Linked DNA regions of Homo sapiens: region 2 is linked to region 1. A link means that fine-mapping ties the variant in region 1 to the expression of a gene that starts in the linked region. Tissue or cell type: left ventricle. Region 1 holds a variant in brackets; the other region holds the start of a gene. All regions are shown on one strand. Distances are between the middles of the regions.

Region 1 (5,145 bases):
GTGGCTCACACCTGCAATCCCAGCACTTTGGGAGGCAGAGGCGGGTGGATCACTTGAGACCAGGAGTTCGAGACCAGCCTGGGCAACATGGTGAAACCCTGTCTCTACTAAAAATACAAACATTAGCTGGGTGTGGTAGCAGGTGCCTGTAATCTCAGCTACTCCAGAGGCTGAAGCAGGAGAATCACTTGAACCCAGGAGGTGGATGTTGCAGTGAGCAGAGATCACACCACTGCACTCCAGCCTGGGTGACACAGTGAGACTCGCTCTCAAAAAAAAAAAAAAAAAAAAAAAGACAAAGGAGGACCTTCAGGGAACCACCCAGATGTAGAGGTGGGGCACGGAGAAGCCCAGAATCAAGTCTGGAAAGCTATTTTTGTTGCCTCCTCCAGTACTGGAATCCTGAACAGAGACTGGCCCAGCCTGCATTTGCATACACCTAGGGATGGGGAACTCACTTCTTTCTGGAGCAATTAATTCCATCCTGGGGGTAGATGACTTCTAGAAGCTCTATGTGCCTTCCTTTTTCTTTTTCTCTTTTTGAGATGGAGTCTTGCTCTGTTGCCAGGCTGGAGTGCAGTCACGCGATCTCTGCTCATGCAACATCCCCCTCCTGGGTTCACGCCATTCTCCTGCCTCAGCCTCCCGAGTAGCTGGGACTACAGGCGCGTGCCACCACACCCAGCTAATTTTTGTATTTTTTAGAAGAGATGGAGTTTCACCATGTTGGCCAGGATAGTCTTGATCTCTTGACCTCATGATCCACCTGCCTCGGCCTCCCAAAGTGCTGGGATTACAGGCCTGAGTCACCACACCTGGCCCTTTTCTGTTTTTTAAGAAACAGTGTCCCACTCTTTCCCCCAGGCTGGAGTGCAGTGGTGCGATCATAGCTCACTGCAGCCTTGCACTCCTGGGCTCAAGCAATCCTCCTGCCTCAGCCTCCCAAGTAGCTGGGACTACAAGCATGCACCACCATACCAGGCTGATTTAAAAAAATCTTGAGGCCGGGCACAGTGGCTCACGCCTGTAATCCCAGCACTTTGGGAGGCTGAGGTGGGCAGATCACGAGGTCAGGAGTTCGAGACTAGCCTGGCCAATGTGGTGAAACCCCGTCTCTACTAAAAATACAAAAAATAGCTGGGCATGGTGGCCTGCACCTGTAGTCCCAGCTACTCTGGAGGCTGAGGCAGAAGAATCGCTCGAACCCAGGAGGCAGAGGTTGCAGTGAGCCGAGATCATGCCACTGCACTCCAGCCTGGGTGACAGAGCAAGACTCCGTCTTAAAAAAAAAATCTTTTCGTGTAGAGACAGGGTCTCACGATGTTGCTCAGGCTGGTCTTGAATTCCTGGCCTCAAGCCATCCTCCCACCTTTGCCTCCCGAAGAGTTAGGATTACAGGATTGAGCCACCATACAGGGCCCTACAGTTCCTTGATTAGCATCTTAAGGGGAAAGACTTTTAGCATGGAATAGATCATCTTTAGACAAAAACCCAGGATCAGAGAAGGGATGGGATCTGCCAGAGGTCACACTTTGCACGAGACAGGACCAGAACTGGGAAGACCTTTCACCTCCAGCAGTGACCCATCCCCCTGAGCCCCACCCAGACTCTTCCTGGTGTCTACCTGCTGTGTGCCACTCGATTCACCATGCCCCCAGCCTGCCCTTCACCAAGCCCTCTTCGATTGACCCCTTGGGGACCTCAAATCCAGCCTTTTTCATCCCTGCTGTCATCTTCCAAGCCTCTTCCTGGGTCTCCTGAGACCCTGTCCATCCACGCTGCACAGTAGAGGCAAAGGCACTTCTCAAAGCACAAATGTGATGACCTCACTCCTTGGGTCAAGCACCTCCCATGGCTCCCACTGTCTCCACGATAATACCAAGGGCCCCAGGATGGCTTCCAGCTCCATGATTTGGGCTGTTTCTGTCCAGCCCCCATGTGACCACTGCTGGGCCCCTCCTCGTTCCTTAGTGTGCCATATCCTCCCCCGGGACCCTCATTCCACTCCCCAGCCTTCAGGTCTTAGGGTTGACACCTTCACGAACCATGCTCCACTACGTCCCCTCCTCAACACGACCCACACCTCCCCTCCAACCGTCAGTGCCTACTTAGGGAGGTGTCTGGCCATTAGATCACTGCTGAAGTTTACCAACTCCACCCTGGCCTGGGCTGCTGAGTGGGCAGAGACCAAGGAGGCTTTGTCACTGCTACCCCAGCTCCCAGTTCTGGGCGAGCCTTGTAGTATTTGCTGATTGACTCTGCACCTGTCTTGGGTGCCAGGGGCTGCTCCTGGCCTGGGGTGGGGTGGGTAGG[G/T]GCACTGGGGGCTGGACAGGAGGGTGGTGTGCCAGGCAGACAGGGCATCCCCTGCTCACTATGGAACCTTGGCCCACTCCTTGTCCCGGCTTCAGTTTCTCCAGCTGTACAGTGAGATGACTAGCGTGGGCAATCCCTGCAGTCCCTCCAGGGATCACGGTCCCATGCTTCCCTCATATCCAGTTATGGAGAATGTGATAAAGGCCACTGCGTCTCCCACTACCAGGCAGGCAGGGCACCTTCATGGGCTGAGGACCTACAGATGCTCACACCTTCCAGCTCGCCCAACTATAGTGTGGCTCGTGGTTAGGTGCGAGGGCATTTTCTTTTTCTTTTCCTTTTTTTTTTTTTTCCAGACAGGGTCTTGCTCTGTCACCCAGGCTGGAGTGCAATGGCACCAATCACAGTTCACTGCAGCCTCTAACTCCTGGGCTTACGTGATCCTCCTGCCCGAGTAGCTGGGACTACAGGTGCATGCCGCCACACCCAACTAATTTCTTATTTTATTTATGCTGGGACTATAGGCGTGTGCCACCACACCCAACTAATTTCTTATTTTATTATTTATTTCTGAGACTGGGTCTCACTCTGTCACCCAGGCTGGAGTACAGTGGCACGATCTCAGCTCCCTGCAACCTCTGCCTCCCGCATTCAAGTGATTCTCCTGCCTCAGCCTCCCGAGTAGCTGGGATTACAAGCACCCACCACCACACCTGGCTAATTTTTGTACTTTCAGTAGAGATGGGATTTTGCCATGTTGGCCAGGCTGGTCTCAAACTCCTGACCTCAAGCGATCCACCCGCCTTGGCCTCCCAAAGTGCTAGGATTATGGGCGTGAGCCACCGCACCTAGCCTAATTTTTTATTTTTTTGTAGAGACCAGGGTCTCACTATGTTGCACAAGCTGGTCCTGAACTCCTGGCTCAAGAGATCTTCCTGCCTTGGTCTGCCAAATTTGCTGGGATTACAGGTATAAGCCACTGCACCTAGCCAAAACATGTTTTTTTGTTGTTGTTGTTGTTTTTTGTTTTTGTTTTTTTTTTTTGAGATAGAGTCTCGCCATCCAGGCTGGAGTGCAGTGGCGCAATCTCGGCTCACTGCAAGCTCCACCTCCCGGGTTCACTCCATTCTCCTGCCTCAGCCTCCCGAGTAGCTGGGACTACAGGCAACCACTACCATGCCCGGCTAATTTTTTGTATTTTTAGTAGAGACGGGGTTTCACTGTGTTAGCCAGGATGGTCTCCATCTCCTGACCTTGTGATCTGCCCGCCTCGGCCTCCCAAAGTGCTGGGATGACAGGAGTGAGCCACCGCACCCGGCACCAAAACATGTTTTTAATGAGATAAAATCTGAGCTTGGGTCATGGTTTCTTATAGATGTGTATTTTTTTTTAACCCCAAACTCAGCGTTTACAATTGCGGCATAACTTACTATAACAAAATGTACAGATTTTCAGGTGGGCAATTAGATGACTTTTGGCAAGTGTATATCCCCCATTTAACCAGCACCCTGATAAGTATACTGGACATTCCCATCATTGCAGAAAGTGTTCCGTGCTCCTTTCCCAACAACTGGAGGCAGCCACTGCTCTAGTCTCTAGTGCCGTGGATTCACTGTGTCTGTTTTGTGCTTCAAATCCATGGAAACACACACATTATGTCCTATTTTCTGCCTGGTTTATTTTGCTCAATAAATTATTTTTGAGATTAATCCAGGCTGGGTGCAGTGATTCATACCCATACCCAACATTCTGGGAGGCTGGGGTGGGAGGATCGCTTGAAGTCGGGAGTTCAAGACCAGCCTGGGCAACATAGTGAGATCCCATCTCTACAGAAAAAAAAAAAAAAAATAGGCGGACACAGTGGTTAGTCTCAGCTACTCAGGTGGCTGAGTTGGGAGGATTGCTCGAGCCTGGGTGGTAGAGGCTGTGGTGAGCTATGATTGCGCCACTGCACTCCAGCCTGGGTGACAGAGCGAGACTCCATCTCAAAAACAAAACAAAAATTACCCAGGCATGGTGGCATGCTCCTGTAGTCCCAGCTATTTGGGAGGCTGAGGCAGGAGGACTGCTTGAGCCCAGGAGGTCCAGGCTGCAGTGAGCTATAACTGCACTACTGCATTCCAGCCTGGGCAAAGCAAGATCCTGTCTCAAAAAAAAAAAAAAGGCCAGGCGTGGTGGCTCACGCCTGTAATCCCAGCACTTTCGGAGGCCGAGATGGGCGAATCACGAGGTCAGGAGATTGAGACCATCCTGGCTAACACGGTGAAACCCCGTAAAATTTTGTAAAAATACAAAAAAATTAGCCGGGCATGGTGGCGGGCGCCTGTAGTCCCAGCTACTCAGGAGGCTGAGGCAGGAGAATGGCATGAACCTGGGAGGCGGAGCTTGCAGTGAGCCGAGATGGCGCCACTGCACTCCAGCCTGGGTGACAGAGCAAGACTCCGTCTCAAAAAAAAAAAAAAGAAAAATTCCCTCCAGTGTTATGGCTGAATGCCCTAATATTCTACAGTAATAGAAACACAGAATATCTTCTGCATTTTGAAATGCAATGTGGAATGAAAAAAAAAAAAAGCATGCCTCAGAAGATCGCAGGCTGCCAGGTATCTTTTCCATACATATAAATGGGATGAAAGCCTTTGCAAAAATCAAGGGAAAGATAAATGTAGGCAGACAGCAGTTACCATCACTGTCATGGTCGCTGTGGGGGGCAGTGTTATTCAAATGATAAACAAACATAAAGTAAAAGCAGGATCAATAAGTACGTCACGAACCAAAAATTCTGAGTCATCAAATTCTGCATGCCTGAGGTCCACCAAAAAAAAGGAGCGTGGG
Region 2 (5,145 bases), 26 kb after region 1:
ATGCCTGTAATCCCAGCTACTCGGGAGGCTGAGGCAGGAGAATCACTTGAACCCAGGAGGTGGAGGCTGCAGTGAGCCGAGATGGCGCCATTGCACTCCAGCCCGGACAAGAGCAAAACTCAGTCTCAAAAAAAAAAAAAAAAAAAAAAAAAAGTAAACAGGTGGCACAGGGACCCTCAGGGCATGCTGTGCTAGTCTGGGCTAAACTTAGGTTTTGGAGAGGGAAGTGACAGAGCTATGGGTCACCACCTGGGGGCAGGGATTGCAGGAACAATCTAAGGGGTTCTACCTGGATGGCTGATTATTGAAAACAGTTTAAATGCTATGTCGGCAGGCTGCGACCCATTAACACTTGCTAAAAAGCCATTTCCCACAATCGTCCCACACCATCCACACAGCAGTTCTGTGTCCATGAGGGGGCCAAATAGTGCTATCTCTATTTTACAGACGGACGAAGTGTGAGCCAGAGGAGACAGACTTCGCCTCAGCCAGGCAGGCAGGGGGCTGTGGTCACACATGACCTGAAGCCATGATCTGGGCTCAGAGTGCATGGGGTGGCAGGTCCTCAGGCATTTGACAAATGTTCCGCACCTTCTGAGGCCGGACCATGGAAACACAGCGATGGCCTTTGGCCTCTGAGTCATCTTGAAACTGGACTAGTCAGCTGGGTCACCTGGGCCTGGGACAGGACAGGCTGCTTTCTGCAGGAGGGAGGAAGGGGGACCCACTGAGGGACAGGTCTTCTTGTGTTCCCAGAGGCCAGCAGGGGGGCTTGACCCCAGAGACACGCCTATCCATGAGTACCCAAAGGGGATCCTGAGTTGGGGGCTGGAAGAAGGCCAGTCTCTCCACCAAGGGAAAGGGGCTGAGGGACCCTGCCCTTTGCTGCCTTTCTAAGAAGCCCCCAAATGCCCCCGCTTCCAGCACCCAGGCCCTGTGCACAGCCGCAGCCTGAGTCATCATTCTCATTTGAATGGTGGCCGAGAAATCAGCCAGGGGGCTGCCCAGGGCTGAGGGCCAAGGCTAGGAAAAACAAGGCTGTTCTGTTACCTCCAAGCTTTGGAACGTCAAGCCCGGCTAGGGAGTGGGGGGCAGAGGGCAGGCAGAAGCAGGATCTGAAGGTGTCAACAGCCAGAGGGGGCTTTGTGTGAGGGGTGGGGGCGCGGTTCAGAATCCGAGCTGTTGGCTTTTGTTTTCAAATGACCTGTTTAATCATTACCCTTTGCAATCAACGGGGAGCACAGGCTCCGTGGCAGAGGCTTGGCGACTATTTCAAATCTCCATCCCCTACTGAGCAGCCGGAGAAGAAAGTAAACAAGATGCCACCGGCAGGTCTGGCTCCATCTCGCAAACAATAGCCGGACTGAGCACCCGGCTCAGACACACACATCAAAGTGAGATTTCCAAGCAAGAACTTTTCACAGGCAGATAACAGGCTGGAATTATTTCCCTGTGTCCCTAGAGCTCAGTGCCAAAGGGGGCAGCCTAAGGGGGCTGTCATTTTCACGCTAACCTTGACCCGAAAAGTATTCATTCATTTTGCAGTGAGGGAGAGCCACCACCGCCCCAAACCGCGAAAAACCAACCAGTAACAACTTTATCATTCCTTTTTAACAGTCACAATGGTGGGCAAATGAGACTTAAGTTACAGCAGCTAGCTGGCACTCACACTCCCCTCGGCTCAGGCTCCTTAAACAACAACAACAAAACCCTAATGCAAGCACCCACCGGGGCTCACAATGTCAAACCCTTACCTGGCATAGGGAAAATCCAAGTGAGAGAGAGAGAGAGAGAGAGAGAGAGAGAGTGTGTGTGTGTGTGTGTGTGTGTGTGTGTGTGATTCCCTCTTTTACCTTCCAAGGCCTTCAACTATTTTTCCCCCTGCAGCATCCAAGCCCAGCCTCAAGGCAGATGCATAAACATGCCTGCTCCTCCCCTTCTACGGTTGGGCAAAACACCCCCCCACCCCCTTTCCAGGACCCCAAGGAGAAAGAATCACGTCCTCTGCAGCCCCTCCCTGGCCCTCGCCCACCCCCCGTTTCCCCCCCGCAATTCCAGGCCGTCCGCAGCAAGCCTCGTAGGCACCTTGAGATAAACACCCACTAATGATTTTATGATTTTCTGCTCTGGGTAACCGCGCTCAGCGGAATCCCTCCCCCCGCCGTGGCGACGGGGCCGGCCCAACCGAGGGATGGGGGGATGGGGGCGTTTGTTTTTTCCACGGCCTCGTCCCCACACCTGTTTTTCATTCATTCATTCGTTCGTTCCTTCATCCATTCACGGATCCGTCACTGCAGCCGCCCCAGCCCCCCGGATTTCGGGGAGGGGGCTGCGATGGGGGAGGGGGTGGGAGATGGGGGGGACGACAGAGGTGGGGGGTGGCGCACCGGGGGGTGGAAGGTTGCGAGGGGTCCGGGAGCCAGGACCCTGCGGCTCCGGCTTTGTCAGACGCGAGCGAAGCGGCGGCGGGGGCGGGGCGGGGGCGCTCCCGGGGCCCGAAGTTGTTTTCCGAGGCGCGGCGGCGAGGACAGCGGCCCGGGGTGCGCCCCCTTTGTCTGTCCCCGGCCGGCGCCGCGTCCCCGCGCGCTTACCTGGTCTTGGAGGACAGGAAGGCAAGTTTGATCAGGCCGTAGGTGAACAGCGGGATACTCTCCTTGGCGACGCTGGCAACTTGCAGCCGGTGCTCCAGGATGTGGAGTTCCATCGTCCGCCCGCGCCCCGTCCGCGGCGGCTCATCCGCGGGGGGACGAGCCGCGGCCCCCGCCCCCTCCGCGCCCTGCCGGCACCGACAGCCGGCCCGGAGACCCGGGAGCTCGGCGCCGGGCGCGGGGGGCGGCGGCGGCCGGGCCGGGCCGGACAAAAGGGAGGAGGCCCGCCAAGTTGCAAGGGGGAGCCGCGGGGCGAGGGAGGCAGCGCCGGCGGAGCAGCAGCCGAGGGGCCGAGCGGCGGAGCAGCGGCGCGCGGCGCCCGGCGCGGGGAGCAGCTGGTGTTCGCTGTAACAAACAACTTGCCACTCAAACGCCGGTCCCCGCTGCGCATGCGCGGCCCGCGCGCGGCCTGCCGGGACTTGTAGTCCGCCTGGGGGGGGGCTCCCCCGGTGCTGTTGCTGCTGTTGCTGCCGCGGGGGCTGGGCGGCCGGAGCTACCGGCAGCCCGGTGCACGGGAAATGCAGGAGCGCGGGCACCCTCAGGACTAAGGGGAAGGCCGAGGGGAGGCACGGGGCGGGTGGAGCCAGCCTGAGCCTAGGCGCGCCCTCTGGCACCCAGTCAGGCTCGGTACTAGGTGCTTGGAGTGTAAAGCGAGCAAACCAGACGACTCCGGTGCTGGAGAAGGCCCGAGTCTGGGAGCGCCAAGATGTAGGGCAATCGGTCATGAGAGTGCAGAGAAGCCAAACCGAAAAGCTTGCTGGGGACCCGGAGGGAGGGGATTGACAGGTCAAAGGGGGTGACCCGGGGGAGGGGACACTCAGGCTGGGTTTTGAAGGATGAATGGGAGTTCGTAGCAAGAGAGTGAGGGCGCGCGGATGGAGGACAGAGGCCTTCCAGGCTGCAGGAACAGCGTGTCCTAGGGCACAGAAGCGTGAAAGCCCCCACGGTGCTGTGTTTGGCTTTGTTGCAGCGGAAAATGTGAGGGAGGAGAGAAAAGAGATAAGGCAGGCATAGTCACCAGGAGTCAGGTCGGGAGGGTCATGTGTGCAGAGCTAATGAGGTGGCCATTTATCCCACTGGAGAGGGGGTGATGGGGACTGCGAAGGGTGAATTCGGGGAAAATGTAAAGTGCGTCTGAGGCACTTCCAACCCCAGGGCCCACGCGCCGGGACCACAGAGGTTCCTCCTTCATGGCTGTCTGGTTTTGAAATGTTCTGGGTTAAAGTGATTGGTGCTTCCACCTTTGGCAGAGTAATCTGGGGACGCGATGGGTGAGATCTATCTGCCAGGGCAGGCTGAGAACTCTCTTTCAGGGGAAAATTGCAGTTGTGCTCCCTCACCTTCCCTCAGCCCTCCTCTGTTAGGTAGGAACATACTAGGTTTTGTCATTTCCACAAAAGGGTGAAAAGCCTGTAATCTGTGGTAGATAGATCTTAGAGCATGCATATCCCCCTCCCACTTTATTTTCTTTTACTCTTTTTCTTTTATTTATTTATTTTTTAGAGACAGGGTCTTGCTCTGTTGGCCAGGATGGAGTGCAGGGGCGCAATCATAGCTCACTACAGCCTCGAACTCCTGGGCTTAAAAGATCCTCCCACCCCAGCTTCCCCAGCAGTTGGGACTACAGTTATGCCTGGCTAATTTTTTTTTTTTTTTAACTTTCTTTTTTCCCCCCCGAGATGGAGTCTTGCTCTGTCGCCCAGGCTAGAGTGCCATGGCGCGATCTTGGCTTACTGCAACCTCCTCCCCCTTGGTTCAGCGATTCTCGTGCCTTGGCCTCCCAGCTAGCTGGGATTACAGGTGCTGGCCACCACGGCTGGCTAATATTTGTATTTTTCGCAATGTTGCCTAGGCTGGTCTTGAACTCCTGACCTCAGGTGATCCACCCACTTCGGCCTCCCAAACTGCTGGGATTACAGGCATAAGCCAATAAGCCACCATGCCTGGCCTTTTTTTTTTTTTTTTTTGAGTCGGAATCTTGCTCCATCACCCAGGCTGAAGTGCAGTGGCACGATCTCGGCTCACTGCAACCTCCCCCTCCGAGGTTCACGCCATTCTCCTGCCTCAGCCTCCCGAGTAGCTGGGACTACAGGTGCCCGCCACCACACCCGGCTAATTTTTTTGTATTTTTAATAGAGACAGGGTTTCACTGTGTTAGCCAGGATGGTCTCGATCTCCTGACCTCATGATCCGCCCGCCTCGGCCTCCCAAATTGCTGGGATTACAGGCGTGAGCCACCACACCCGGCCTTTTTTTTTACTTTTTGTAGAGAGGGGTGTCTCACTATGTTGTTCAGGCTAGTCTCGAACTCCCAGCCTCAAGTGATCCTCCAGCCTCAGCATTTTTTTTTTAAAGCTTATCTGTCTCTCCCCTACACAATCTCAACTCCACAAAGGCAGTGATTTTTGTCTGTTCTCCGCTGTGTTCCCATTGTCAGCAATAGTGACTGGCCTATGAGAGACACTCATTCAATATTTGTGGAATGCATCAATGCACC

Direction of the effects. Alleles are on the strand shown, and positions count from the first base shown. SD is a standard deviation of normalised expression in the study named.
In carriers of allele G in region 1, the expression in left ventricle of the gene that starts at base 2,985 in region 2 tends to be lower than with T alone (small effect, 0.26 SD a copy in GTEx).

Evidence for each region. PIP is the estimated chance that this variant, and not a neighbour inherited with it, causes the effect.
Region 2: CASTOR2 starts here. The variant in region 1 is fine-mapped to the expression of CASTOR2 in left ventricle (GTEx, PIP 0.92).

The regions. Positions count from the first base shown.
Region 1 is chr7:74,988,595-74,993,739 of GRCh38, reverse strand. All of the region lies in intron 1 of CASTOR2 (cytosolic arginine sensor for mTORC1 subunit 2), which reads right to left. Among named protein-coding and RNA genes, the nearest start is that of CASTOR2, 26 kb to the right of the region's middle. The variant G/T (reference allele first, on the strand shown) is at 2,314.
Region 2 is chr7:74,962,545-74,967,689 of GRCh38, reverse strand. CASTOR2 (cytosolic arginine sensor for mTORC1 subunit 2) reads right to left here and starts at 2,985. Exons shown (of 9, transcript NM_001145064.3): 1 at 2,592-2,985. The coding sequence starts at 2,704. RefSeq lists a silencer at 3,138-3,247.